7 linked regions of the Homo sapiens genome follow. The protein of the gene in region 7 purifies or fractionates together with the protein of the main gene of each other region. This does not show direct contact. Each region holds a gene or a part of one and is shown on either strand. Other genes may lie near its edges.

Region 1 (4,236 bases), on a different chromosome or scaffold from region 7:
AGCTCCTCTCAAGGTCATCGTCACTGTCAGCAAATGCTGGCAAATCCATTTCACTGTCTTCTTCCAACTCAAGTTTCCGTCGTTTGATGCCCTTAACAGCCATATACTGATCAGTCATCTCAGCATTTTCCTCCTCTTCTGCTTCCTCATCACTAGAGCCGTTTTCCAACCCGTCATCTTCAGACATTTCATCATCTTCTTCATCATCACTATCTCCAGATTCATCTTCATCTCCGAAAATGGCTTTCCGACGCATTCGACCAGTGTTCAAGTCCATTTGTTTTTCCTCCTTTGGCATCATTAGCCTGTATTACCAAGGAAATACAAAATAATTCAATTTGTACATTAATCAGCTAATCTAGAAATGGCAATATAGTCAATGAAAATACAAAGAAATAGAAAATGTCAAGGAATTGTTTAAGATGACATAGCATAGGGAAAATATGATTTGATAAACATTGGAAGAGTTAAGAAGCAAACTCGGGCATGGTTCCCTAACACCACACTTCAAAAGAACTTATAGAGAGAATAAAGGAATAACCCTTAAAAAACAAAAATCTAATTTTAGAAAAAAATTGCTCAAAAGAGAAGTTACTGTTTTGTAGATCTTTTGGAAAGCTGATTAATTTCTAAGCTAAAAACACATGATCCTTAAGAGAAATGGGTAAGTCCAGGCCCAAAGCAGAAAGAAGGCAAAATGAGCCTGGATCCTCTTGTTCTGTCAGAAAGTGAGAAATGCTCAAAGACTAACAGAGACAGTTGAAAGGACACAGGAGACAGGCTGAAGGCTCCTGCAGCCAAATCTGGGCCAGCATAGGCATCAGGAAGAATAATGATAGTGATGGAAAATAACCCATGGAACAAAACACAAGTGCATTAGTCAGCAGTGATACCGAAATAAAGGGGAGAAGAGAAAGCTCTTTGTTAAAAATGCCAGCTAACAAACGTAGGAGGAATGACAGAGGAAGAACATCCATTTTAAGTCACCAGTGCTATAACTGATACAGAAGAATCATCAGGAAGCTAAAATCACAGGATAAAAGAAAACTGTATGAAGCTATTTAATGTAGCAAGATATATAAAATTAAGAAAACATAAATTTGAAAAAACTGAAAATCATACCATAAGAGACGGGTAAGTTAGAATACAGCAATAATAGGCCAGGGGTAGTGGCTCACATCTGTAATCCCAGAACTTTGGGAGGCCAAGGCAGGAGGATTGCTTGAGCCCAGGAGTTTGAGACCAGCCTGGGCAACATGGTGAGACCTAATCTCTAGAAAAAAAAAAAAAAATTAGCTAGGAGTGGTGGCGCACTCCTGTAGTCCCAGCTACTTGGGGGGCTGAAGCAGGAGGACCACTTGAGCCTGGGAGTTCAAGGCTGAAGTGAGCCAAGATCATACCACTGCACTCCAGCCTGGGAGACAAAGCAAGATCTTGTCACAAAAAAAAAAGAATACACCAATAATAACAAAATGATGACTACATAAAGACTGTATAGAAGAAGGAAATGACAAAGGACTATAAATCATGCTGCTATAAAGACACATGCAAACGTATGTTTATTGCCGCACTATTCACAATAGCAAAGACTTGGAACCAACCCAAATGTCCAACAATGATAGACTGGATTAAGAAAATGTGGCACATATACACCATGGAATACTATGCAGCCATAAAAAAGGATGAGTTCATGTCCTTTGTAGGGACATGGATGAAATTGGAAATCATCATTCTCAGTAAACTATCACAAGAACAAAAAACCAAACACCGCATATTCTCACTCATAGGTGGGAATTGAACAATGAGAACACATGGACACAGGAAGGGGAACATCACACTCTGGGGACTGTTGTGGGGTGGGCAGAGCGGGGAGGGATAGCATTGGGAGATATACCTAATGCTAGATGACAAGTTAGTGGGTGCAGCGCACCAGCATGGCACATGTATACATATGTAACTAACCTGCACATTGTGCACATGTACCCTAAAACTTAAAGTATAATAAAAAAAAAAAGAAGGAAATGATAATATAGAAATAAAATTATGTATTTTAACTGTAACTATATTAGAGGAGAGTATTCTTGTAGACAAAGATGACTAGAAGGATATGCAAAAGTGAAAATAGCTAGTAATCCCATTATAAAGGAGTGATCTTTCGGCGAACACTTCGTACCTGTCAGGCATTCTGCTAGGTAGTTTATGCACATTGTACCAAATTACATACTAGATAATCTCAAAATTTTCAGATAAATTTTACTGGGAGTCATAAATCAATACAACAAAACCAATGTTTTGCAAACATCCACTGCATATAAAGGTATACAAATCCCCAACCCAGACTGGAAAATAATTCACATGAGCCATACATCCACGGAAACCTACCCAGAGGAGATAATACAACACAATCTAAATAAAACTTTCAGAGACAAGGCATGTGGCTTCTGGACAGCCACAAACTCCCTGACTTTGCTCTAGTGTTTTGGCCACCAAAAGAAAGCCAAGTGGCTTCAGGTCTCTTAAAAAACAAAAGGCAACCTATGGAAGATGGCATGGTATTTGAGGAATATTTGGGGTCTGTTGAAAAATGCATCCTGCAATTTATTTCAAGAAAAGACTCCCTTGTAATGTCAGGTAAGTGAAGAGCCCTCAGAGACACATGCACACACAAAGAAAAACAAAACAACATAGAATGAATCCCACCGAAATGTGTTATGATGGCTGAATTATGGGTGATATGATCTTTTGTAATACATCTTTTTATTAAAAATAGAAAAAAAGCAGACTTACCCTTGATTATCTATATCCTCTGACCCAAGTGGCTTGGAATCAGAAAACAGCGTCACTCGACTTGAAGCCATCTTGGCATCAATGGTGGAGTGGGTAGAGATGAGACTCTGGACCAGCTCATGGGTGGGCCCCACTTCATCCTGTCAAGACCACCAAGAAAGGGCACGTGAGGAAAGCACAAAGATCCTGGAGAGACACGAGCTTCACTCAGTTTCTCAAAATTATCTTAGACACATTTCCTAAGAACCTTTCTTAATGCCTCAAAAAGCAGAGAAGAAAATCCTTACAACAAAGCTTGAAATGGATCCCCATCTCCATTAAACTTTTCCAAAGTTCAGGGAGTATATAACCTGATAACCTAAACAACCTAGCTAGAAAAACCTCAGCTCCAAAGCTACAACAATGCTAGCTTTTCTAATATTTTAAAATAAGCCGATTTTAACCCAATAAAATTCCACTTCAGAACAAAGAAATAAATATTTGAAATCCACTTTAAAATACAGCATGAGGAGACCATTGTGAATGAGAAAAAGACCAATGAAAGCTGGAAAGCACACTGATTTTGTAGAAACGGGGATGGGCCGTGCAGGCGCCACACAGCAGCAATGCCTGTGCTGGGGCCATGGATCAAGGAGGAATGAAGGAGAGGACTCTTCTGCTTGGTACAATGAAAAAAAAAGTATTATTTTTATCCTATATATTTACAATATGCATTTGGGCCTTTATTATAAGTACAAGAGAAAAATCTTCAATAAATAAAAGCTGAGTACATTACTTTTTGTGATTAAAAAATAGATTCAGAAAGAATACTGAAAGTTCAGAGAAATGACTCCCGTCTCACCGATACCTGAAAAACGTGGCTGCCACCAAGGTCAACATAGACAGCGTCTTTGTCATACAGCACACCCCCAACTCCAGAAAGAGGCGCATAAACCAGCTTCTCCTTCTCATTTAAACAGCGCTTCTTTTGTTGTTCAGGAAGAGCGCAAGGGTCTGGGAGGAAACTGATGTCACTCACGGCAAAATCTCCTACCCCTGGAAGACAGAACCCAAAAGCCAGCTTCAGCTGACAAGAAGTCAGAAGCATCTACCATTGACTAGGGGGTTAAATATGATCCACAGTCCAAGGGCTTAACCCATAACACTAAAGAAGGGCATTGTGCCACACTGGAACAGTGGCCCCCTAGCTACAAGACAAGAGGTCAGAGAAGAGGGGATTCAGTAACACCTTTGCAGGCCTACACATAGGTGGCTTACTTTTAAAACCTCCAGCAAGGCCATCTTCCCTTGTTTGGTCATTTTTCAGTTTTCCTGAGAAATGAAGCCATCCCAAGAATCCTATGTGTAATTCTAGTATGTTCTACAACAAGAGAATACCTGGCATGTGAATTTGGCTTTTATTTTTCAAGTGTGCTCCTCTTAAATAACCATAAAGTGACACCTTCCGGT
Region 2 (4,236 bases), on a different chromosome or scaffold from region 7:
GCAGCTCAGGACCTGCCTGGAGGCTCTGTGGGGAGTCAGGGGACAGGAAGGGAAGCGGGGGAAGGAGAGCAAGAGGGAGGGCAAGAGAGTCACCATCTGGGTGGGGCGCAAAGCCGCACATGTTGGGGAGTCCTTGTCAGAAATGCAAGGCCCTGCTGACGAGGTCGCACGCTGGCCCCTCAGGCCAGCACTGGGCACCCAGTGGCGGCCTCAGCAGGAAATGAAGCCAGAGATTTCACACATGAAGGGTGGATGAGGGTGGCGTCAGTTTTCACTTGTGTGAGGGAGCAAGCAGGCGCGCCCGCAAGGATGTGAGGTGCACACTGGCTTTGGGGAGGATGAGTTACACAGGGGGTGGCTAGGGGTCCTCCTGACACCTGATGGGATGAAATGCCGTCACCTGTCACCCGGAGCTGACACTCTACTGCAGGAAACACAACCCTCGCAGTGGCTAAGCTGACGGCAGCAACGTGGGTCCTGACTCTGGCCTGGCATACCGGCTGCCTTCCGGGCCCATGGCTTTTGCAGGGGACCTGCTGCCGGGGAAGGATCCTAACTTCATGGTGGTGACAGGCTGACATAAACCAACCCAATAAGGAGCGCCAGCCCCTGAGTGAGCCCCACTCCCTCCGGCAGCAACTGAGAAACTCGGAAGCTGGGGGAGAGCCTTTGGCTTCAGGAGGGTTCACATTGAGGCTGAACTCCCCTGTGCAGCTTGGCCTTGGGAGGGGAGTGGCCCAGGGCCTGAAAGGATGTCTTTACTAAGGCACCGTCCTGCCCACATCAGCTGTTCAGGTAACATCTGTCCCATCCATCCCTCATTCCCACACGGACACCACACGCCTGCGTGATGGCCACTTACAATGCAGTCAGGAGAGGTGTGACGTGCCCCCATCCTCGGCTCACCACAGCACTGCCAGCTGAGCCCCACGGGCCACAGCAGCGGGAAGCAGCCAGGGAGGGCCGGCCGGGTGCTCTCAGGTCTCAGCAAGCCACGTGGCTCTGAGGCCAGGACACTGGGGAAGCCAGGCTCCCACGCAGGCAGAGCTACTGCTGAGGCCATAGGACAGCAGAGGCCTCGTCCCCAGTGGCTGGGAGGAAAGAGGGTCAGGGCCTTTGCACTGCAGGTCCCAGCCCAGGCTTGGGGGTGCTCCCTGGGGAATGGCTGTGGGGATGGGCACTAGGAGCCAGGCCGAGCTGCTTCCATTTGCAGTCTCGCCCCTCTGGGGAGGGAAAGGACAGGCAGAAGCTCTGTGCTGTTATTTTGGCGGCCCCTAAAGAGCCAGTCCTCCCAAAGAACCGGAACTGGGCTCGCACTTAGTTAACCCACGGAACGCAGGAAAGTGGCAGGAAGCATGTTCCAGGTTGATGCCTGAAGAAGGGCTGGCAGCTGCTGCTTTTGTACTGAGGAGCCCTGAGCCCTGTGAAAGAAGGGGAGGGAGAGGCCCCGAGACGACACACGGAGAAGCCCACCCACCCCGGCAGCCCAGCCCTGAGCCCACGCCAGCTGAGCACAGCCACGCGAGCGACCAGCAGCAAGAGCTGCAGCACTGTCCACTGTTCACTGTCCACTGTCTGGCGGAGCCAGCCCAGAGCGCAGAGCCGCTGCTGCTTTAAGCCTCGTGGTTTCGGAGTCAAGCAGCCACAATGACCAGCACTACCTCCCCCATCTCTTTCCCTCTTCGTGTACTGCGTTACCCTCCCAGTCTTCCTACAGAGGAGCAAAGAGCCTTCAAGACCCAACGGCACGCAGCCACAGAGAGACAGGGCTGGAGCCCGTGCCTTCTGTTTTTTTTCCTTTCCTCCCCCTTCTTTCTCTCCTTTTTTCTTGAGACGAAGTTTCACTCTTATTGCCCAGACTGGAGTGCAACAGCACCATCTTGGCTCACCGAAACCTCCGCCTCCCAGGTTCAAGCAATTCTCCTGCCTCAGCTTCCCGAGTAGCTGGGATTACAGGCATGCGCCACCACGCCCGGCTAATTTTGTATTTTTAGTAGAGACGGGGTTTCTCCATGTTGGTCAGGCTGGTCTTCAACTCCCAACCTCAGGTGATCCGCCCGCCTCAGCCTCCCAAAGTGCTGGGATAATAGGCATGAGCCACCGCACCCGGCCTCTCTCTCCTTTCTTTAAGACAGGGTCTAGCTCTGTTGCCCAGGCTGGAGTGCAGTGGTGTGATCATGGCTCACTGCAGCCTCAACCTCCCAGGTTTAAGCGTTCACCCCACCTCAGCCTCCTGAGTAGCTGGGACTACAGGTGCACACCACCACACCCAGCTAATTTTTGTATTTTTTATAGAGACAGGTTTTCACCATGTTGCCCAGGCTGGTCTCAAACTCCTGGGCTCAAGTGATCCGCCCGCCTCAGCCTCCTGAAGGGCTGGGATGCCAGGCATGAACCACTGTGCCCAGCCTGCCTTCTGTTTCTGAGCTCAGTTTTCTGGTTTTCTACACTCCCCATCTCCCCACAGCACCAGGAAGGACATCAAATGCATTTGCCTTTGTGTGCGAAATTCCAATGTGCGTAGCTACATTGCTGGGCATAGTTCTGGTAGCCATTCCTCAGAAAGGTACCCAAAAGGACATCTGAGTGCAACAAGGGATTCCAATAGCTCTTGCATGACCCTCCAAGAAACAGGTCTCCTGATAGAGAGCCACTGGACGCCTAAAATTTACGAACAGAATGGCCCAGGGGAAAGGGAACTTGGCCACCTCTTTTGGGATTTAGAAAACAAGACACACTCTTTGACTTGAATGACATTGTTTTGGGCACCATAAAGAGGAATGCTTTACCAGGCAGGTGCTACAGAGAGCTGGACGCACACTTTTTTTTTTTTTTGAGACGCAGTCTCACTTTCTCACCCAGGCTGGAGTGCAGTGGTGCAATCTCGGTTCACTGCAACCTCTGCCTCCCGGGTTCAAGCGATTCTCCTGCCTCGGCCTCCCGAGTAGCTGGGACTACAGGCATGCACCACCACACCCAGCTAATTTTTGTATTTTTAGTAGAAACGGGGTTTCACCATGTTGGCCAGGATGGTCTCGATCTCTTGACCTCGTGATTCGCCCGCCTTGGCCTCCTAAAGTGCTGGGATAACAAGCGTGGGCCTGGCCCACAACACTTTTAAGAACTTGAATACTGAAAGACATCTATGAATTTGAAGAGAAATATTGCAACTGACTGGACACTTACATGATGTAAGGCACAATGTTAAGATACATGCCTAGTACATCAACACTCTGGAAAACCAAAAGTATCTGTCAGGTGGGAAGGTGGGAGTAGACCATGCTGTATCCAACATCACACCTTAGTCCTAGAGGGATGCCTACAGCCCTGAGGACCAAGGAAAATGCCAGTGAACTCGCCTCTTCCAGGAAATGCCAATGAAACCACCTTTGCAAAAACTGTAACAGTGAGAAAATTATGGTGGTGAAAGAGATCTGATCTAACCAATCCCCATCTTTGGCCTTCCAACTACCTTTTTTTTTTTTTAAATGGAGTTTTGCTCTTGTTGCCCAGGCTGGAGTGCAATGGTATCATCTTGGCTCATTGCAACCTCCGCCTCCCGGGTTTAAGCGATTCTCCTGCCTTGGCTTCCTGAGTAGCTAGGATTACAGGCATGTGCCACCATGCCCAGCTAGAGATGGGTTTCTCCATGTTGGTCAGGCTGGTTTAGAACTCCCGACCTCAGGTGATCCGCCTGCCTCAGCCTCCCAAACTGCTGGGATTACAGGCAGGAGCCACCGCGCCTGGCCCTTCAAACTACCTTTAATTATTCCTGGGCTTGGGCCAAGCTAACTTTGGGAGACATTTGTAATTTAAATGATAATACTCCTTCCGTAAAACTCAACTGCCTTTGTAAAGCTAATGAGGGTCCACGAGGATAGGAGGATGGAGGAACCTGAATTCTGCTAAGGGGTAGACATAAACAACTGCCAGCTATTCTTCTGGAGGTCACAAGATATGCGACTTCCCCAGTGACTCCTGCAGATAACAGCACTAGCAGCACTGTGGAACCTAAGACCGGCCTTCTGAGCTGTGTCTTTTCAGGGTTTTTGCATGTCTGATCAATGGCTCTACCTGAAACCAAAAAGAGCTCCCCGCAGCCCCAGCCAGAAGTGACTCAGTAAGCAGGACCGTTTCCCACACCCCTATGATTGCACCTCAACCAATCAGCAGCAAGCACCCGTTGCCTAGCCACCCTCCCCTTTCCCCAAACTATCCTTGAAAAACCCCGCCTCC
Region 3 (4,236 bases), on a different chromosome or scaffold from region 7:
AAATTAGCCGAGCGTGGTGGCAGGCGCCTGTAATCCCAGCTACTCGGTTGTGGGCGGGGGGGGGGGGGGGGCGGGCTGTGGCAGGAGAATTGCTTGAACCCGGGAGGAGGAGGTTGCAGTGAGCCAAGATCGTGCCATTGCACTCCAGCCTGGGGGAAAAGAGCAAGACTTCGTCTCGAAAAAAAAAAAAAAAAAATTAATAATAATAATAATTTCTTCACAAATATCAAGAGCTTTCAATTCCTTAATTAAAACTGAATTATGCCAAAACCCTTTCTATGCATCAAAGTAACAAGTTATTTCTAAGGCATATTATTTCTAAGGCAACTAGATTCAATGATTAGTTAGGAAAAGGGGATTAAACTTCCTTGCCTTAAAATAAGGCTCTGAGCTTTTTGCTGTATAGTATCTCCTTTGTTTAAAACCAAACTGATGCTTTTTCCAGAGTGTAAACCACTTGGTGAACAGCCCAAGGATGGGCTTACATTACTCACAGAGTGACTGAACTTCTAAAATGAATTATCATATGATATGTCATCCATATTCATTTACAATAAATGAAAGCTAATTACAACAAATTCTAAAGATTATCCACTTTCATTATAAAAATGAAGCATATTTCTTAAAAAGAATAACATTCCCAGTTTCAAATGGCTAGGGAATAAAAGAGGTCACAACCAGTCACTGAAAGTGCCTCAAAGAACACTGAATTAGTATGGAAAAAGTGTTCTGGGGAAAAGAACAAAACCATATTGCAAACGGCCGCCACAAAAATTGTTCATGCTCTTCCACCTTATGAATATTGTTTAGGAAGAAAAGGAAAAAACATTTTCTTCTGTTAGAAAGCTATACATTTGTAATTGTCAAAAGGACCCTTTGCAGAAAATTAGAGTATTGTCTAGAATTTTAAATTATGCCTCTGCTCCCACACCTACCTTGCCTTCTCCAAACTCTTTAGTCTGATATATAATTTAGTGGAAGAGCTGGCATTTCTGGCTGATTGCTCAATGTGGTAAAAAAAAGAAGCAGCACTTGGATACTTGAGGTATAAGGAAAAAAGTAAAACGTGGCTGGGCATGGTGGCTCACGCCTCTAATCCCAGTACTTTGGGAGGCCAAGGCAGAAGGCAGGAAGATAGCTTGAGGTCAAGAGTTCAAGACCAGCCTGGCCAACATAGCGAGACCTTGTCTCTATTTTTTTAAATAAATAAAAGAAAAAAGTGAAATGAAAGACAAATATTTGCCTCCTGCTCTCTACACAGAGGAAAGCTGCTATAGAAGATCAATTCTTTGTTCCTTTTGCCCATCCCAGCTACTTATAGAATACTGTGTGAGCAACAAGTATTAGATGCTGGATACTTTTCTCTTCGTAGAGAGTGACTACCACTCTGAAAAAAGCTTCAAAAGATCTGTATATCAAATTACTCATTTTATTGAAGGTTTGTTTTTAAATAAATTTATATGTAAAAATACTTTTAATATATGATATTTTTACTGATCTACTCCAAAGATTGAGAATGTTTTTGTCCTATTAAAGTTCTTAAGGTAGGAGGATTTAGCTTACCACCTTCATCATCATAATACTGATTTGCCCCGTAATTACCATTACCACCCTAACCACCAACCTGGTGCAATTCTTCTACCTTATACAACAGAAAGTTAAATATGTAAGAAAATGAAACCTAGAGATGAAATTTGAGTAGTTTTAATCACAAGAAAAAAAACAAAGAACAAAGAACAAAATAACAAAGACTAGTGAGCCTTTCCATTTGAAGTCTTCATGTTTATTTTTTAACTTACCATTGCAGTAGGGATTGGATGGGTTGAAGTTCATTGGAAATTCATGTGATACCTGTCAAAGATGGACAAAGGACTGATGAGGGCTGGGCTGCTTTTCTAGGAGGCAAAGCTTTAAAATAGAGATTTCCTCTTACCTGCCACTGAGGAGGTATCTGAGCGCCAAAACCAAAAGCTGGAAACATCTTATCACTAAAAAGAAAAAAATATTTAATAAAATACTGTTTTTTCCAAAATAAAAAGCTTTATCTTTGCCCACAATAAAATCCATATGAGCTCATTTCAAAAAGTATGAAGATAAAACAAAGATTACCTATATTAACTGCCAAAGAGAATCAATGTTAATATTTGACAACTCTCATCCTAAATATTTTTCTGTGCACTGAGGAAGAAAAATGTTTCTTTCTATAGATTTTGTAGAAATGGAGTTTACATGCATGTTTTATAACCTACTCTGTTCTACTTAAATCTTGTGTATCATTTCAGTGATCAAATGAGTAAATAAATACATGAAGCCCTGAAAATCACAATTCTTTTTTTACTAATTGATGGCAAACTCATTTGGTAGCAAAACCTGACCTCAGATGATCAGAGGTTATTGGTAGCTTTTATTTATGCCACTTAATACAAACATTCATACATTAGGGAGAGGGACAGTGGACCGAATATATAACATCACATGAATAGCCACTGAGTATCCCACAAAATGGATATCCTCCCCCAGATGTCTGATAGCCAATGTTCCGCCATTATAAAACACCATAATGAACATAATTTTTCTACGAGGAATATTCCTTTCATATTTATTCTTAACAGTTAGTTTTGCACTGAAGATAGAGCCTATGCCATGTCAGAAATATTTCCCCCAGGCTGAGGTGGGAGGATTGCTTGGGTCCAGGAAGTGGAGGCTGCAGTGAACTGTGACTGCACCACTGTACTCCAGCCTGGGTGACAGAGCGAGACCCTTTCTCAAAAGAAAGAAAGACACATTTTTCCCCAGTTTGTAGTCTGTCTTCAACTTTGTTTAAAGCATCTTTCTTTTCATAGTTTTTAATATTAATGAATATGAACACAAAAAAGCTGCATGATTTTTGCCTTTGCTCTCTTGCTTAAAGGTTTTCCTCACTACAAGATTATAAACAATTCACATACACTTTCTTCTAAAACTTTAAAGTTTGCTTTTGACATTAAACTTCTAACTCATCTGGAAAGTGTTTTGAAGTAGGATATGAAGCAGGAATTGCTGCTCTCCGGCAATATCCATTCTCTCCTTTAATAATAGAACACCTGAGCTAGAGACTGCTCTTCCTAGCTTCTCTGGCCTGGATGTGATCAGATGGCTGGGATCTAGAGATGGAGATGTGAGTAGAAGTGATTTGCCAGCCACTTCTGAATCATGCCCCTAAAAGGGAATGCACATTCACTCCCTGGTCCCTTTCTTCTCTTCCCCCTGGCTGGAGAAGATGAGAACCAGAGCTATGGAACCCCGGAGGGAAGCTGTGAATTGAGAACAGCAGAACTCCCCTATCAGTTCTTAACTATTATATTTACCCCTAGCAATGTGAAGTGAAATAAACCTCTATTTTGTCAAAGCCACTTTGTTTTTGGGTGTCTATTTCAGCAGTCTGGTCTGTACTCTAATTTATACAGAATAATATCCTAAAACATGCAAGTATGAGTCAGGGATCCAAATTCAATTCTTGTCCAGTTTGACAGCTTTTACAACCCCCTCCCCTAAATTCACTTATATGCATGGGTCTATTTCTGGACTGTTTGCTTGGTTCCACTGGTCATGTCCTAATTCCATACTCTTAAGATAATTGCAATAATACTTTTAATATCTGCTAGTGAGAAATTATTAATTTTTTAATCCTATGTTATATTTGACCACCTTTCTAAGCTCTCACTACTGTCTAATAAAGTAACTTTCTATATATGTTAAATATATTTAATGATTTTTACCTTAAAACTTACTAGCCTGAAATTGGAATTGCCACCTTACTTTAGATTTCTTTGCATTTGCCTAAAAATTTCACCTCTTTAAATGCTACAGATTAATGAAAAGCCCCATCAATATGTAAATAAAATAATAATAGACAAAAGCAAGTGAAATTTTATTCTGTACTCTTAACGCTACATCAGGAAAAACACTACTAATGCAGATGTTTTCCCTATTGTTTAGTAAACCCTCAATAGGACCTATTTAAATCTTTTCAAAACCTAACCATTGATAACCATTCAGAATATTTCATAGCAATTAGATCTAGTTATCCTTCAGCACTTGTTAAAAGTCACCGTTAAAAAAATAATTTGGCAACTGCCAAGGACATAGATATGCTAAGAAATAGTTTTTATTTCTTAACATAAATAGTATTTAGTATTTATAAATAGTATTTAGTATTTAACATAAATAATATTTAGTATTTATAAACAGTATTTA
Region 4 (4,236 bases), on a different chromosome or scaffold from region 7:
TGCTTGAACCCAGGAGTTCAAGACTGTAGTGTGAGTGCACTCTTGTTGTGCCTGTGAATAACCACTCCACTCTAACCTAGGAAGCATAGTGAGACCATGTCTCTTAAAAAAAATGTAGGAAAGATATTGCATGGGCTGCATTAAGGCCTTTAATGTGGTAGCTTTATTTCACAAGTAAGGGAAGCCTTGGAAGATCAGATTATCTTTATTGGGTTATGCAGTTATTGAATGGTGGAGAGGAGCCTAAAGCACATCTTTTTAGTGCAATGTTCTTTAATAATTATTACTAGTCTTACTAGAAATGGAAAGACTTATGGTGGTTCATTTTCCAATTTAGAATCCTTGTCTTGTCATTTCAGCAGGTGTCGCTTTAAAAAAAAAACCAGAATCCTCATCTGATTGGGTTTAAATATTGGTAGGGTTCTTGAGGACTGAGAGGGCAAAGGAAAGGGAACCTAGTTCTTAGCAAAGCAGAGAGTTCTAGGTGTGGAAGGCTGGATGGCAGAAGACCACAGTGAGGAAAAAAATGCTGTCAGCCGGGCGCGGTGGCTCACGCCTGTAATCCCAGCACTTTGGGAGGCCAAGGCGGGCGGATCACGAGGTCAGGACATCGAGACCATCCTGGCTAACACGGTGAAACCCCGTCTCTACTAAAAATACAAAAGATTAGCCGGGCGTGGTGGCACACACCTGTAGTCCCAGCTACTGAGGAGGCTGAGACAGGAGAATCGCTTGAACCCGGGAGGAGGAGGTTGCAGTGAGCCGAGAGCGTGCCACTACACTCCAGCCTGGGCAACAGAGCGAGACTCTGTCTACAAAAAAAAAAAGAAAAAATGCTGTCAGAAGCTGTGTAAATGAGAAGCAGTTGCAGGCTCAGAATGGTTTCTATGTCTTTTAAAAGGATCTGGTCTTAGGGTCAGGCGTGGTGGCTCATGCCTGTAATCCCAGCACTTTGGGAGGTTCAGGCGGGTGGATCACCTGAGGTCAGGAGTTCAATACCAGCCTGGCCAACATAGCGAAACCCTGTCTCTACTAAAAATACAAAATTAGCCATATGTGGTGGCAGGCGCCTGTAATCTCAGCTACTTGGGAGGCTGAGGCAGGAGAATCACTTGAACCTGGGAAATAGAGGCTGCAGTGAGCCAGAATCGTGCCACTGCATTCCAGTCTGGGCCACAGAGTAAGACTCAAAAAAAAAAATCTGGTCTGGGGTCAGCCACATCACTTAATTCTATGTGCATAACAATTATATCCTTGGGCTGAAGCTGTTCCCTCTACATTGTCACCTATGCTGAGAGTAAAGATAAGTACCAGGTTGTAAGGTATCCTGTTTCATTTTTCTCTGTTTCTCCTCATTTCTAACTCTCCTATTTCATACCTTCTGGTGGCATGTCTGAGAAGTATATTATGTCTAATGACCTTTCTCTGGCCCTACTTTGCTATCTTGGAAGTACAAAATGAACTTTTTTTTTTTTGAGACAGAGTTTCACTCTTATTGCCCAAGCTGGAGTGCAATGGTGCCATCTCGGCTCACCGCAACCTCTGCCGCCCATGTTCAAGCGTTTCTCCTGCCTCAGCCTCCTGAGTAGCTGGGATTACAGGCATGCGCCACCAAGCCCAGCTAATTTTGTATTTTTACTAGAGATGGGGTTTCTCCAGGTTAGTCAGGCTGGTCTCTAACTCCCAACCTCACATGATCCACCCGCCTTGGCCTCCCAAAGTGCTGGGATTACAGGCTTGAGCCACTGCACCTGGCCTAAAATGAACGTCTTTATAGGTAACATCCAGACCCTGCAGTGAGTTAGCTAGGGAGATGAATGTTGAATTTGGGAAAAGGCATGTATTACGTGTAACTTCACTCTTTTTTTCTGACTTCTCCCTGTAAATCTTCTTCTGTATGATTTATTTTGGTAGATTTAGATAGGTCTTCTGGCCATGGTTGTTGAGATGTTTGTTATTGAAAGATCAAAGGATAGCTGTTGCTTAATGGTAAAACAAATTTCCAACAGGCTCAGTTTTAGTTCCCTTATTCCTAAAGTATAGATAACACAAAAGCAAGAATTTTGTTTTTAGAAAATTAGCTACTTTGACAAAAAACAACAAAATTTGTGGTACAGTATTATTTATTGAACCACTTTTTTTTTGAGACGGAGTCTCCCTCTGTCGCCCAGGCTGGAGCGCAGTGGCGCAATCTCTGCTCACTGTGACCTCCGCCTCCCGAGTTCAAGCGATTCTCCTGCCTCAGCCTCCCGAGTAGCTGGGACTACAGGCGCATGCCACTACCCCGGCTAATTTTTTGTATTTTTAGTAGAGACGGGGTTTCACCATGTTAGCCAGAATGGTCTCGATCTCCTGACCTCGTGATCTGCCCACCTCAGCCTCCCAAAGTGCTGGGATTACAGGCGTGAGCCACCATGCCCAGCTGAACCACTTCTTACAGTTGTATCAAGAGAGTAGCGGCTGGGTGCAGTGCCTCAGTCTTGTATTCTCAGCAATTTGGGAGGCTAAGAATGGTGGATCACTTGAGGCCAGGAGTTCGAGACTAGCCTGGCCAACATGGCGAAACCCCGTCTTTACTAAAAATACAAAAATTAGCCATGCATGGTGGCACAGGTCTGTAATCCCAGCTACTCCGTAGGCTGAGGCAGAAGAGCCGCTTGAACCTGGGAGGCAGAGACTGCAGTGATGCCCCATATCATATATGGAATGCATCCCCATTTACACCTAAAATTTGAAACAGAATCTGAGAAACAAAATATTTCTAATCTCCTTCCTGATCCTCTTCACTGATACCAGGTTTGCAGAAAATATAAGGCCAGCTCTTATCTTTTGAGAGAAGACTCTTATTTCTTTGTCTAAGATTGTCTATACCCCTTTTTATCTGCCTCTTTTAAAAATCCTTGTCCAGCCACTATATTTTTAATTTAATCAACACTCAGTTTTTGCTTTTCCTGTTTTTTTTTCTGTTTTTTGTTTGTTTGTTTGTTTGTTTGTTTGAGACGATGTCTCGCTCTTGTCCCCCAAGCTGGAGTGCAGTGGCATGATCTCGGCTCACTGCAACCTCCGCCTCCCAGGTTCAAGTGATTCTCCTGCCTCAGCCCCCCGTGTAGCTGGGATTACAGGCACTTGCCACCACGCCTGGCTAGTTTTGGTATTTTTAGTAGAGACGGGGTTTCACCATGTTGGCCAGGCTGGTCTCGAACTCCTGACCTCAGGTGATCCACCCGCCTCTGTCTCCCAAAGTGCTGGGATTACAGGTGTGAGCCACCACACCCAGCCCACATACTACTTTTATGGTTCTCTTTTTGTTGGTGACTGGCATTTTACACAAACCTATTTCCTGGGTCGAAGTGTTAATATTAGAGAGCCGGAGAGTGGTCAGTGTGACACCCTGTGGTTTCAACCCTGGCTGCCTATTAGGATCACCTAGGGAACGAACCATCAAGAAAACAAAACTAATGCCAGGGCCCAATCTGAGATGAATCAGAATCTCCAGGGGTTGCAACCTGGATGGCAGCATTTTAAAAAACATACCATGAGATTTCACCAGGATTGAAAATTATTATAATAGACTTGTAGCCTCCTGGCTGGGCACAGTGACTCATGCCTGTAATCCCAGCACTTTGGGAGGCTGAGGGGGGCGGATCATTTGAGGTTAGGAGTTCAAGACCAGCCTGGCCAACATGGTAAAACCCCGTCTCTACTAAAAATATAAAAATTAGCCGGGTATGATGGTGCATACCTGTAATCCCAGCTATTCGGGAGGCTGAGGCAGGAGAATCGCTTGAACCTGGGAGCTGGAGGTTGCAGTGAGCCGAGATCGCGCCACTGCACTCCAGCCTGGGTGACAAAGTGAGACCCTGTCTCAAAAAAAAAAAGGCTTGTAGCCTCCTTAAGGACAGAAACCTATGCTTTTTCATTTGTGTATCTCTTGGATTTACCAAAGTGTCTGGCACATCCAAAGCTCTCATTAAATGTCTACTTAATGAACATAAATGTTCCTTTATCTTTTTTGTCACTTATTTAATGTTTGTCAAACTTTTTTACTGAAGTGTCGTTAACAGCAGAGGAGAGTGAATGAACTATAGGGGTTCTGCTACTATAAGCAAACATGGAATTTCTTTGAAGCTTCCCTAAATTAAAATGTAAGGTGAACTTCGTATTCGTTGCCATTGCATCTGTTTTATGGGTAACACCCCCACTCCTTCGAGTTAAAATTGGTGCCTCCAGGCAGAT
Region 5 (4,236 bases), on a different chromosome or scaffold from region 7:
CATTACATAGAATCATGACTATTTTACCTGATTTGCCTTAACTAGCTCAATTTATCTTGTGCTATGGATTTGCACTCAACCATTCTACTTTCCTATGTTTTAAAAGCAGCATTTTAGTCAACAATTGTGAGTGCTCATCACCCTACATGCTGTGAACAAAGTCAAGGTACTTTATTCTTATTTCTTATCCTATATTCTGTGTTACAGAAAAACTACTACCATAAACAAAGCACCAACCAGCCACAGCAGTTGTGTCAAGCATGACAATTGGTCTAGTCTTCACATTTTATTAGTAAGTCTATCAAGTAAGAGATGAAGGGTCTAGAAAACTAGACACAAAGCAACCAGGGTCCAAATCACCAAGGTAGATCTGTGCTTAGCTAAAGGGAAACACCCGAAGATTCATTATTTGGATACAGACTATGGGACCATCTTATTTGAAGGAAGCTTTGATTTGCCTGTTCTTCAGTGGCTGAGCTGGGCGCCAGTTGTCCACCATCAGTTCTTCGGGTTCACCCTCCCCATTGAAGTTAAGTTTACGGAATTTCAACACCTAAAAGACACAATAAAACATTGATAATTAATGTTTCACAATGGTATTCAGTTATATACTTGTGTTATATCTTTAAATACATTCCCCGGCCAGGCGCAGTGGCTCATGCCTGTAATCCCAGCACTTTGTAAGGCTGAGGCATGAGGCGGGTGGATCACTTGAGGTCAGCAATTCGAGACCAGCCTGGCCAACATGGTGAAACCCTGTCTCTACAAAAAAAAAAACACACACACACACACACAAAAATTAAACAGGCGTGGTAGAGCACCTGTAATCTCAGCTACTCAGGAGGCTAAGGCACAAGAATCATTTAAACCCTGGAGGCAGAGATTGCAATGAGCTGAGATTGCGCCACTGCACTCCAGCCTAGGCGACAGAGCAAGGCTCTGCCTCAAAAAACAGAAACAAAAACAAACAAAAATTACATTCCACAACATTCAGTGCTGTGCATCAATGGCCAAAATTCAGTTTGATTCCTAATGAATACATAATCACATATAGATTATGTATGTATGCTTTAATATAACAAACCAATTTATACAAAATACACAAATTCGTTGGGGTCATTTTTAAGGGAAATTTTCAGTGACCTTCTAATTTAAAAATCTAACATCAAAAGTCTATAAACTCATACCTTTAGATGCAAAATAATAACAATTTTAGTTCCAAATTAAAGCTTTGTTTTCTGCCCCAGGGAAGACAAACTACCACATCCATACAATTAGATCAAGTGATCAGGACCTGTAAGCTCCATGGGCTGAGTGACGAGCTGGCATCTCCAAATACACAAAAACACGGAAATGAATTTGCCTAGGCTGATTTGCCTTAAGAAGCTCAATTTATCTCATGCTATGGATTTGCACTCAACCATTCTACTTTCCTGTTTTAAAAACAGCATTTTAGTGAACAATTGTGAGTGCTCACCACCCTACATAGCCCTACTGGCATTTTGCCAATATATGCATTTAACATTAGAACCCCTTGTCACTGGTTGATTTTTATTCCCTTATAAACTTGTTTCAGTTTACTGGCCACCACTGAGATACAGGCAGCTGTTGAACAGTCTCCCACTTCTTCAAGGTTCTCAAAAAGTGCTACTTTCCCCCCTCTAACCAAGACGTGATCCAAATGCAAAAGGGTGGTTTGGACAGTAATATAGCAGCCCATGAATCAACAGCCTTTAACCTGATCTCTTTTGTCCAGTAATAGTCCCTCAATCACCCCCGTAGAGCCACCTTCCATGCACATACATTATAACATGCACAGCTATGGTTACTGAATGCAAGGGAGCATTCTAAGGATATATAGGGTTGATTCGTTACAACAGAATTCCAGCAATCTGAAAGAGAGTCTGTTCATAAAGTGTAAACAGGTCAAACTTTTGATCAAACCAGTATAACCGATTTCTGCTACTCACTGCACCAATTAAACTACACTGTCACATTAGTCAACTTGACTCATTGTTTTAGCATCACAGAGACAGAGCCTGGGTATAGAAAATAAAGGTAGCAGAATTAGCAGACCCATTTATACTGCTTACCTAAAATCCACGCCCCCCCATACTTCCTCATTAACAGACATCCGCCCTCTCCCTGTAAGCCTCAGTGGGGTAAACCTGCAGGTCTTAACTGACTGTGATGATCACATTCCCGGGCTAGGGACTGAGCAAGAAACACAATTCTAGCCAGTGAGAAGTGAAAGGTTTTCTAGGGGCCTTCAGGAAAGAGCTTCTCTGCTCTTAGGAAGCCAATGGAAGAGGTATTCATTTCCTCCTCAAGAAGTGGTTATATCTAGATGTGATGCTCAAAATGCTATTACAACCACCTTGAGGATGAAGTCACCAATTGGCAAGGCCAAGTCAAGGGACTCAGATAGAGGAGGACCTGCAGCCCTAGCTTCCTGAGCTGAGCATGATCCTTCCTCCAGATTCCATGTTATAGGACAAAAAAAAGAGCCCTATTGGTATTTTGCCAATATATACAATTAACATCATTAGTTTAATACCACTTTCAACTTTAAAGAGCAAACTCAGGGTACAGGGATTAATGCAGTAGGTTCAACTGCCCTTATCTATATGTGTATTTCTGCCTGTGGGTGTGTATACACCATAAATCCATTTGTTATAATGGCTCTAAATGTCAGACTATTGCTTTAAAGTTGCATTGCTCTCAGTGAAAGAAGAAAAAAAAATTCATGTTTTAAATTATAATGTAAACACTGCATCTACAAAAAGAAGGGCATTATAATCTTTCCTTACGCTACACTTCAAGAAGCTTACTCAAATATGTTATTACTACAAGGTCAATCTTCAAGTGACATACCAAGCATGCTATTTTTTAGGCCCACTTTGATATGCTACAAGTAATTTTCCAGTCAGATACATATTTCCTTTAAAGAAAGATATGAAGTATCTTCAGCATTCATAAGTTCATATTCTAAGGGAGGACACAGGAATAGAATCCTTGCTCCCAGGCCTGATTCTGTTGCAAGGTAGCTGAGTGGAAAACACTTCAATTTTCCTGCATCTCAGACTGTTGATCAATGTGATTCAAGCCAGTGAAATGAGAAAGTTGGACAACATGATCTCTATTGCACATTGCAGCTCTAAACCTCTATTATTCAGCATTTTTGTAGGTTTAAATCACACTACCACTACTCACATAGTTACCATTTTCAAGACTGTTGGCTCCTAAAGCTATCCTTAAATTATTCAGGATCCATCCTCTTGTGAATCCTAAGGAATGTTCACTTTCTACATTTCAACTGTGCGCTAAGAGGTAAGTCTAGGAAAAACTCATTTGTATCCACTTTAGTGGCTGCTCATCAGTGACTTAGAAGCTGCACTAATCACTTGACGATCACACACTATATTTTATTGGAAATGTAAGAATACCTGCTCTAAGCCTCTAAAGCAACCTGGAGTGAGTTTTAATAGATACATGTTCTCCAAGGGATGACTCTCATCTGTCAGGATTCAGAAATGCATTCTGATATAAATAAAATAGCAGAAAGCCCTTATGTGAGTGAGTAGTAGGCTGGTAACTCACTGATACCTGCGTAACCTTGAATATGAACTCTCACTTTTCTAAGCCTTAGTTTCCTCATAACTGGCAAAAAAAAAAAAAGGCATTTATTAGGTGACAGACATCTTTCTCATTGAATCCTTACAATGACTATTCAATTTTAGAGACTAAACGAACTAAGTTTATAGTTAATAACAACAAAGATTTACTGAACGCTGTTTATTTGCTAGGCACCATCAAAGGCACTATTTCCATAGCAAGAAGTAGCAGGAGAAGGATTAAATCTCAGTTCTCTCTCACTCTGGAGGCCAAGGTCTTCTGCCTTGACTAAATGCTCCACCCGTAAACAGACCTGTCATTACAAAACAAACCTGCTCGCTGCTGACGCTGATGGGTTCCTTGAGCACAATCCAGGTCACACATTCCAGAAGAGGAGGGGTGGTCAGTGAGCCTGGGTAGGTCCAGTAATCCAAGGATTCAGGAAGGAGGCCACGAGGATCGAAGTTAGTGAAGTCAGCACTCTTGCCCTAGAACAAGGCAAATACGCAGCTTCAAACTATCACATTGACAGAGTAGGAGGAAGGTAGGAGAGCAGCAGACACAAATAGGTATACTCCCCTCTGATGGTCAAAAACACTTTTTAAAAAAGAGGTTCTATAT
Region 6 (4,236 bases), on a different chromosome or scaffold from region 7:
CCTGCCTTGGCCTCTGATGTGCTGGGATTATAGGCATCCACTACCGCGCCCAGCCCCATTTAAAAAAAAAGTATTTAGAAAGTTTTATCCTTCTTTCTTAACTCTTTTGGATGAGCCACTTCAAGTAGGCACATACTTGTCCCGTTAGTTTCAGTTTAAAAATATCACCCCTCTTTTAGACAATAACCCTACTCCCCACCAATACATCATAAAAGTCTTCTCACCTGGACCAATTGCTCCTTCAGTTTGTAGATGGGCAGGCTCTCCCTCTGCTCAAGGATTGACATCTGGGTCTTTTTTCCGTAAGAGGCTTTGTTGCCCCCAAAGGCATGCTTCTTCCACTCAGGAATATCATTGGGCATCATCCCAATACCCCTCATGTTGGCAGCAATCTGTCTGCCTTCCGCTGGAAAGGAAAACAGGCAACTTAGTATTGTCCTCAAGCTACCTCAAGATGTACCAGGAAAAAAATAAAATGGCATGCGGGCACTGCACATGCAGCATCTCAATTCAGCGACCCGTGATCAAAAGTACTCAAAGAAACAAATTAATGTGAAGAAAAGAATATAGAAGGGGCAGCAGGGAATGGGAAAGAGACTGTAACAAGTGGTGCTACACACCTGTGATGTCAGAAAAAAGGTTAGTTGAGAGAAGTGAAGACCTGACTGCTTGACACTGGAATTATTTTTTTTTAGGTAGGGTCTTGCTCTGTCATCCAAGTGGGAGTGCAGTGGTGCAATCCTGACTCACTGCAGCCCCGACCTTCTGGGCTCAAGCGAGAAGAGGTCACTCTATGTTGCCAGGCTGGTCTCGAACTCCTGGGCTAAAGCAATCCACCCATCTCACCCTCCCAAAGTAATGGAATTACAGGTATGGCCACCATGCGCAGCACTCTCCCCTTTTTAAATAACTGCTATATCGAGATGTAATTCACAAACCATGTTACACTTTTTTTATTTTATTTTATTTTTTTGAGACAGGGTCTTGCTCTGTTTCCCAGGCTGGAGTGCAGTGACGCAATCACGGCTCACTGCAGCCTCAAATTCCTGGGTTCAAGGAATCCTCTCTCCTTGGCCTCCCAAAGTGCTGGGATTACAGGTATGAGCCACCAAGCCAGGTCTCCGTGTTACTCTTTTTAAGTGTTTAACTCAGTGTTTTACTGTATATTCATTAAGTTGTGCAACTATCCCCACTATTTAGAGTATTTTCATCATATCAGAAAGAAACCCTGTACCCATTAGCAGTTACTCCCCATTCCTCCCTTTTCCTTTCCCTTGGCAACCATTAGTCTACTTTCTATGTCTACGGGTTCTATTCTGGATACTTCATACAATATGTGGTCTGTTGTGCCTGGTTTCTCTCAGATTAATTTTTTTCTTTTTCTGAGACAGGGTCTGGCTCAGACGCCCAGCAGGCTGGAGTGCAGTGGCGAGATCTCAGCTCAGCAACCTCCACCTCCTGGGCTCAAGCAATCCTCCCACGTTAGCCTCCTGAGTAGCTGGGAATACAGGTGCACGTGATTACACACGGCTAAACTTTTTTTTTTTTTTTTTAGATGGAGTTTCGCAATTGTTGTCCAGGCTGGAGTGCAATGGCGTGATCTCGGCTCACTGCAACCTCCGCCTCCCAGGTTCAAGTGATTCTCTTGCCTCAGCCTCCCTAGCAGCTGGGATTACAGGTGCGTGCCACCACATCTGTTAATTTTTCTGTTTTTAGCACAGATGGGGTTTCACTATGTTGGCTAGGCTGGTCTCAAACTCCTGACCTCAGGTGATCCACCCGCCTCAGCCTCCCAAACTGCTGGGATTACAGGCATGAGCCACCATGCCTGGACTAATTTTTGTATTTTTTTAGAGACAGGGTTTCACCACATTGCCCAGCTTGGTTTCAAATTCCCCAACTCAAGTGATCTGTCTGCCTCAGCCTCCCAAAGTGCTGGGATTACAGGTGTGAGCCACCTTGCCCAGACCTAGCTTATATTTTCAAGATTCACCTTGGAATTGTGGCTTGAGGAGCAAAAAAAAATGAGCAGAATTTTAGTGGCTCTCTAGCATATGCAAACATTTTACAAATTTGATGCCAAAAGCTGGCTACGAAAAAATACTTATGCCTACTAACCAAATAAGTGAGCTTAGGCAGAGGCCAAAGGAGGGTCATGGAGAACATTTCACTAAAGGGTAAAAGGGAATGAATGGGTTTATTCTGAGGAAATGGAAGATGATATTGTTAAACAATGAACGAATATGTCCAACCTTCTACTGTAAATCTAATATTTTGGTTTTTATTTTTGTCGTTTTTAAAAATTTAATTTTAAAATAGAGACAAGGGCTAGGCACGGTGGCTCACCAGTAATCCCAGCACTTTGGGAGGCCAAGGTGGGCAAGATCATTTGAGGTCAGAAGTTCGAGACCAGCCTGACCAACATGGTGAAACGCTGTCTCTACCAAAAATGCAAAATAATTACTCGTGCGTGGTGGCGGTCACCTGTAGTCCCAGCTACTTGAGGCTGAGGCAGGAGAATCGCTTGAACCCAGGAGGCAGAGGTTGCAGTGAGCCAAGACTGCACCACTGCACTCCAGCTGGGGCAACATAGTGAGACTCCATCTCAAAAACTAAACTAAACTAAACTAAAATAACAAAACAAAACAAAATAAAATAAAATACAGATAAGGTCTTACTATGTTGCCCAGACTGGTCTTGAACTCCTGGCCTCAAGCAATTCTCCTGCCTCGGCCTCCCAAAGTGTTGGGATTACAGGCGTGAGCCATCATGCCGAACCTAATCTAATATTTGAATCTCTATTACATGCAGCCAAACTGATATCTAAATTAACACAATTCCCAAACTTCTGTCTCCAGCCCAGACCTCTCTTCTGAGCTCTTATACTCAATTCTACACTGGATACCTCAACCTAAGATGTCCTCTAGTTGCCTCGGACACAAGTCCAAAACGGAATTTGACCATCTTTCCCCACAAACCCATTTCTCCTCCAGTGTTCCCATCATTCATCCTAGTGCTCATACCAGAAACCTGGAAGTCATCTTTGACCATTCCTGTTGCCCCACATTCAACAAATTACTTTTCTCAAGTACATCCCTCCTCTTTGCTACCTCCATGTTCAAGCCACCATTCTCTCTCTTCATAAAAGCTTTCTAAATCATCACATGTGCCCCATCCAACTCATTCTGCAGGGCACCCTCAATCATCCTTTGGAAATGCAACTCTGGTCATGCCATGTGCCAGCTGCAAACTTTCAACATCTGGCTGGGCACGGTGGCTCACACTTGTAATCCCGGCACTTTGGGAGGCTGAGATGGGGGGGGGATCACCTGAGGTCGCGAGTTCGAGACCAGCCTGACCAACATGGAGGAACCTCGTCTCTACTAAAAATACAAAAAATTAGCTAGGCGTGGTGGTGCATGCCTGTAATCCCAGCTACCTGGGAGTCTGAGGCAGGAGAATCACTTGAACCAGGGAGGTGGAGGTTGCAGTGAGTCAAGATCATGGTGTTGCACTCCAGCCTAGGCAACAAGAGCAAAACTCTGTCTCAGAAACAAAAACAACAACAACAAAAGAACTTTTCAACATCTCCCAGTGCTATTAGAATTGAGCCCAGCTTCCTAATGCCACCTACAAAGCCCTGGCCTGATGTTCTTATCTCATCCCCTACCACTGCCCACTGCTCTCTCTATTCCATCCACACAAGCCTTCTTTCAGTTCCTTCTTTCCCACCCCACAAACCCAACACGGGCTACTCCTCAGGCTGGAACATACTCCCCAACCTCCATCCCATCTCCACTTGACAGACTGAGTCCAATTTATCCTTTGGGTCTCGATTTCCCCAGGGAAGTGACCCACCACAGTCAATTACACTGCCTGTACTTCTTCACATGGCACTGATCATAATTTAATTATTTGGTGATTATTTAATTAATATCCATATCCCCGACTAAGTTGTAGCGCATAAAAGCAGGGATCATATCTGTTTAATTCAAATCGTATCCCCAGTTGCCAAACACAAATTAAATTAATAAGTATTTGTTATGACTATATCTAGTAGCTAATATTTACTGCACAAAGAATTATATGAAAAAGGAAGCTTCAAAGCTGTATTACCTTTAGAATAAAAATTTTTTTTTTGAGACGGAGTCTCACTCTGTAGCCAGGCTGGAGTGCAGTGGCGCGATCTTGGCTCACTGCAACCTCCGCCTCCAGGGTTCAAGCGATTCCCCTGCC
Region 7 (4,236 bases):
CAGTGAATCCTGCTCCCAGCCCGTGATGAATGGCAAATCCAAGCTGAACTCCAGCGTGCTGGTGCCCTATGGCGCCGAGTCCTCTGAGGACTCTGACGAGGAGTCAAAGGGGCTGGGCAAGGAGAATGGGATTGGTACGATTGTGAGCTCCCACTCTCCCGGCCAAGATGCCGAAGATGAGGAGGCCACTCCGCACGAGCTTCAAGAACCCATGACCCTAAACGGTGCTAATAGTGCAGACAGCGACAGTGACCCGAAAGAAAACGGCCTAGCGCCTGATGGTGCCAGCTGCCAAGGCCAGCCTGCCCTGCACTCAGAAAATCCCTTTGCTAAGGCAAACGGTCTTCCTGGAAAGGTGAGTGCACGTCAGGGTCTTCAGCCTCGTTTGTGGCGGTTCCCTTGGCTGGATTTCAGGAGGCATGGAGCTGGCGACTGAAGCTGAAATATTTTTGTTTTTATTGCAGTTGATGCCTGCTCCTTTGCTGTCTCTCCCAGAAGACAAAATCTTAGAGACCTTCAGGCTTAGCAACAAACTGAAAGGCTCGACGGATGAAATGAGGTAACGTAAGAGTACATCTGAGGCACGTGTGGCAGCATAGTAGGAAATCCAGTAGCCTCCAGATGTGTCAGTATTTGAATGCTGTAGAAATTTTATAATGAACATTTTGAATCCTAGAATGATTTGAATTATAATGTATAGGATTTATTAACTTGCCTTTTAGAAGAGTAAAGAAAAAATGTGGCATACAGGACTGAGTCCACGGAAACTTGATGTACTCACCATGCTATTTCTCCTCCTGCGTGGCCACCTCTCTCTGGTTAGCGGTGTTACTGGCACGCCTTCAAGTGCCATCTCATTTCATCTTTCTCATGAGAAATGATGATGTGAGGGTGTGCTGAGGGTCTAGGCCAGGGCTCTCAGTCCTGTGAAGAAGCACATACAGACATCCGTCCGTCCACAACAGGGATGCCTTCTGAGAAATGCATCGTTTGGGGATGTGGTTGTCATGCCAGCACCACAGTGTGTCACACAGACCTAGATGGTGTGTCCTGCGGCTCCTAGGCCACAAACCTGCACAGCCTGTGACTGCACTGGATCCCGTAGGCAGCTGTAATACAGTGGTATTTGTGTATCTAAACATAGAAAAGGGACAGTAAAAATATGGTATAAGAGGAAAACTGGCACACCTGCACAGGGCACTTACCATGAATGGAGCTGGCAGGACTGGAGGGTGCTCTGGGTGAGCCAGTGAGTGAGTGCTGAGTGAATGTGGAGGCCTGGGACGGTACACTACTGTAGACTCTGGAAACACTGCACACTTCAGCCGCACTCAATTTGTTAAAAAAATTGATTTCTTCAATAGTAAACACACCTTAGCTTACTGTAACTTTTTTACTTTATAGACTTTTAATTTTAAACTGTTTGACTCTTTTGTAATAACACTTAGCTTAAAACACAAACATACAGCTGTACAAAAATAACTTCTTTTTTTGTTTGTTTTTTTGTTTGAGACGGAGTCTCGCTGTGTCACCAGGCTGGAGTACAGTGGTGCGATCTCAGCTCACTGCAGCCTCCGCCTCCCAAGTTCAAGCAATTCTCCTGACTCAGCCTCCTGAGTAGCTGGGACTACAGGCATGCGCCACCCCACCCAGCTAATTTTTTTTTTGTATTTTTAGTAGAGACAGGGTTTTACCATGTTGGTCAGGCTGGTCTCAAACTCCTGACCTCAACTCATCCACCCGCTGTGGCCTCCCAAAGGGCTGGGATTCCAGACGTGAGCCACCGTGCCCGGCCAGCAGAGTCGTTTATTGCCATTGTCATGTATTATGTACTAATCGTATGTGCTAGACTTCCATGGGACTGGCAGTGCAGTGGGTTTGTTTACACCAGCATCACCACACTCACGAGGCACGCGTTGCCCTTGGACTGTTACAGTGACGGGAGTTTTCAGCTATGTTGTGATCTTATGGACCGCCATCATATGTGGTCTGTTGTTGACCGTATGTATGAGGTACATGACTGTACTTTGTAAAGGCCCTTCAAGGATTCTGAAATTATAGATAATAAAACCTGCCCCACAATTTAAAAAAAAAATCATGTCATGTTAGTGAAGAATGTGAATGTAACGTTGGTCAGGAGTGAGAGGAAGGGAATTTGTCATGCAGCGTCAGTGGCTTCACCTCGCAAAGCAGCAGCAGGACGGCCCCGTGGCGAGAGGCTGTGCAGGCGGTGCTTGCATCTCTGCACAGGTTGGCTGTGAGTGACAGCTCAGAGTGCGGCCGGATGTCACCATACTCGGTGCCAGGCGCGGGTTCATCATCAGGAAGTCGTGTTCTCATGGCGAACAACTTCTGGTGAAGTTCTGATCAAATCACAGCATGAGCGACTCTAGATTTATATACTGGGTGCCTTCCTGGAAACGTCAGTGTCAGTGAAAACCGTGCCAGTGACACACCCGTAGTTTTTACCCGCACGGTTGTTGGCACTCACCTGTGGGGGTGCTGTTCATGCTGGCGGGGCTCCCATCACTGTGGCAACCCCAGAATGGCCCCCGGCGGGTGGGAGTGCCCTCACTGAGGCCCTCTGTTAGGAGGGCGTAGATATTAAACCGGAATGGGGCGAACCCTGTGGGCAGGGAACACTCATTCCCAACCTAAGGATAGGCCAGCTTGGACACTCGCTCCCTCGGCCAGGGGACTCTGGCCTCACCTAGGCCAGGTAGCGTGAGGGTGAGGTAGGTGGCTGTGCAGACAAGCCCAGGCCACAGCAGCTTTCATTATTAACCCCGAGGATATATCGAAAGCTCTGCGGGAATCAAAGGACAAAGTTAATTTACTACAGAACGTTTTGCTAAAGCCTCTGATTCCTCATAATTTGTCAGTAATTGGAGGAGCTGCTGGCTGTGTTTGGAGGTGGCCCCTCTACCTTTGAGGGTCCAAGAGAAATCAGAGAAAGGGAGTCGAGAGGAAAGGAGGAGGCCCTGTCATCACTGGACTTTTTTTCTTTAGTCTTAGTTATTAGGAAGAACTAGAGGAATTGCGGCCAGGCGCGGTGGCTCACGCCTGTAATCCCAGCACTTTGGGAGGCTGAGGCGGGCGGATCACCTGAGGTCAGGAGTTCGAGACCAGCTTGGCCAAGGTATAGTGAAACCCCATCTCTACTAAAAACACAAATATCAGCTGGGCATGGTGGTGGGCACCTGTAATCCCAGCTACCCGGGAAGCTGGGTCAGGAGAATCGCTTGCACCCAGGAGATGGAGGTTGCAGGGAGCTGAGATCACACCACTGCGCTCCAGCCTGGGCAACAGAGTGGGACTCTGTCCTTCAAAAAAACAAAACAAAATGAAACAAAACAAAAAAAAAAAATAGAGGAATTGGAAGAACTAGAGGGATATCCAGAAACAGGAAGAGCCTAGAACTCTAGGATTATTGTTTTGAAAAATAGGCTAGGAGCTGGGCTTGATGATATAACATTTTATTTTTATTTAATAAGGGAAAGAGAAAATTGGGAGTTTCCAGAGATAGTAGTACTAGCCTAATATTGGGCTTCGGCGAGATGTATTTAAAGAGACGAAATAGCTGCTAAATGACGAGTTAATGGGTGCAGCACACCAGCATGGCACACGTATACATATGTAACTAACCTGCACATTGTGCACATGTAGCCTGAAACTTAAAGTATAATAATAATAAAATAAAGAGACGAAATAGCAAATGAACGTTTTGAAGTATTTGTCCTTGTAATGCAATGACATGAGCCTGTCAAGCCCACGCTAACGGGCGTGTTTGTTTGTTTGGGGGCTGCAGTGCACCTGGAGCAGAGAGGGGCCCTCCCGAGGACCGCGACGCCGAGCCTCAGCCTGGCAGCCCCGCCGCCGAATCCCTGGAGGAGCCAGATGCGGCCGCCGGCCTCAGCAGCACCAAGAAGGCTCCGCCGCCCCGCGATCCCGGCACCCCCGCTACCAAAGAAGGCGCCTGGGAGGCCATGGCCGTCGCCCCCGAGGAGCCTCCGCCCAGCGCCGGCGAGGACATCGTGGGGGACACAGCACCCCCTGACCTGTGTGATCCCGGGAGCTTAACAGGCGATGCGAGCCCGTTGTCCCAGGACGCAAAGGGGATGATCGCGGAGGGCCCGCGGGACTCGGCGTTGGCGGAAGCCCCGGAAGGGTTGAGTCCGGCTCCGCCTGCGCGGTCGGAGGAGCCCTGCGAGCAGCCACTCCTTGTTCACCCCAGCG

The links.
Region 1: the proteins of USP42 (region 7) and BMS1 purify together in Homo sapiens (affinity purification with mass spectrometry; one large-scale study listed by BioGRID and IntAct). This does not show direct contact.
Region 2: the proteins of USP42 (region 7) and LRRC47 purify together in Homo sapiens (affinity purification with mass spectrometry; one large-scale study listed by BioGRID and IntAct). This does not show direct contact.
Region 3: the proteins of USP42 (region 7) and CPNE3 purify together in Homo sapiens (affinity purification with mass spectrometry; one large-scale study listed by BioGRID and IntAct). This does not show direct contact.
Region 4: the proteins of USP42 (region 7) and MRPS21 purify together in Homo sapiens (affinity purification with mass spectrometry; one large-scale study listed by BioGRID and IntAct). This does not show direct contact.
Region 5: the proteins of USP42 (region 7) and CA2 purify together in Homo sapiens (affinity purification with mass spectrometry; one large-scale study listed by BioGRID and IntAct). This does not show direct contact.
Region 6: the proteins of USP42 (region 7) and DHX8 purify together in Homo sapiens (co-immunoprecipitation; one large-scale study listed by IntAct). This does not show direct contact.

The regions. Positions count from the first base shown.
Region 1 is NC_000010.11:42,792,543-42,796,778, reverse strand, and holds part of BMS1 (ribosome biogenesis protein BMS1 homolog), read right to left. Parts: coding exon 4,165-4,236; intron 3,823-4,164; coding exon 3,635-3,822; intron 2,928-3,634; coding exon 2,788-2,927; intron 306-2,787; coding exon 1-305. UniProt on the Homo sapiens protein: GTPase required for the synthesis of 40S ribosomal subunits and for processing of pre-ribosomal RNA (pre-rRNA) at sites A0, A1, and A2.
Region 2 is NC_000001.11:3,789,644-3,793,879, forward strand, and holds part of LRRC47 (leucine-rich repeat-containing protein 47), read right to left. Parts: intron 1-4,236.
Region 3 is NC_000008.11:86,548,798-86,553,033, reverse strand, and holds part of CPNE3 (copine-3), read right to left. Parts: intron 1,989-4,236; coding exon 1,934-1,988; intron 1,852-1,933; coding exon 1,800-1,851; intron 1-1,799. UniProt on the Homo sapiens protein: Calcium-dependent phospholipid-binding protein that plays a role in ERBB2-mediated tumor cell migration in response to growth factor heregulin stimulation.
Region 4 is NC_000001.11:150,296,476-150,300,711, forward strand, and holds part of MRPS21 (small ribosomal subunit protein bS21m), read left to right. Parts: intron 1-4,236.
Region 5 is NC_000008.11:85,476,987-85,481,222, reverse strand, and holds part of CA2 (carbonic anhydrase 2), read right to left. Parts: intron 4,104-4,236; coding exon 3,948-4,103; intron 554-3,947; coding exon 434-553; 3' UTR 1-433. UniProt on the Homo sapiens protein: Catalyzes the reversible hydration of carbon dioxide. Can also hydrate cyanamide to urea. Stimulates the chloride-bicarbonate exchange activity of SLC26A6. Essential for bone resorption and osteoclast differentiation.
Region 6 is NC_000017.11:43,500,814-43,505,049, reverse strand, and holds part of DHX8 (ATP-dependent RNA helicase DHX8), read right to left. Parts: intron 407-4,236; coding exon 225-406; intron 1-224.
Region 7 is NC_000007.14:6,149,948-6,154,183, forward strand, and holds part of USP42 (ubiquitin carboxyl-terminal hydrolase 42), read left to right. Parts: coding exon 1-355; intron 356-464; coding exon 465-559; intron 560-3,009; coding exon of another isoform or gene 3,010-3,022; exon of another isoform or gene 3,023-3,716; intron 3,717-3,808; coding exon 3,809-4,236. UniProt on the Homo sapiens protein: Deubiquitinating enzyme which may play an important role during spermatogenesis.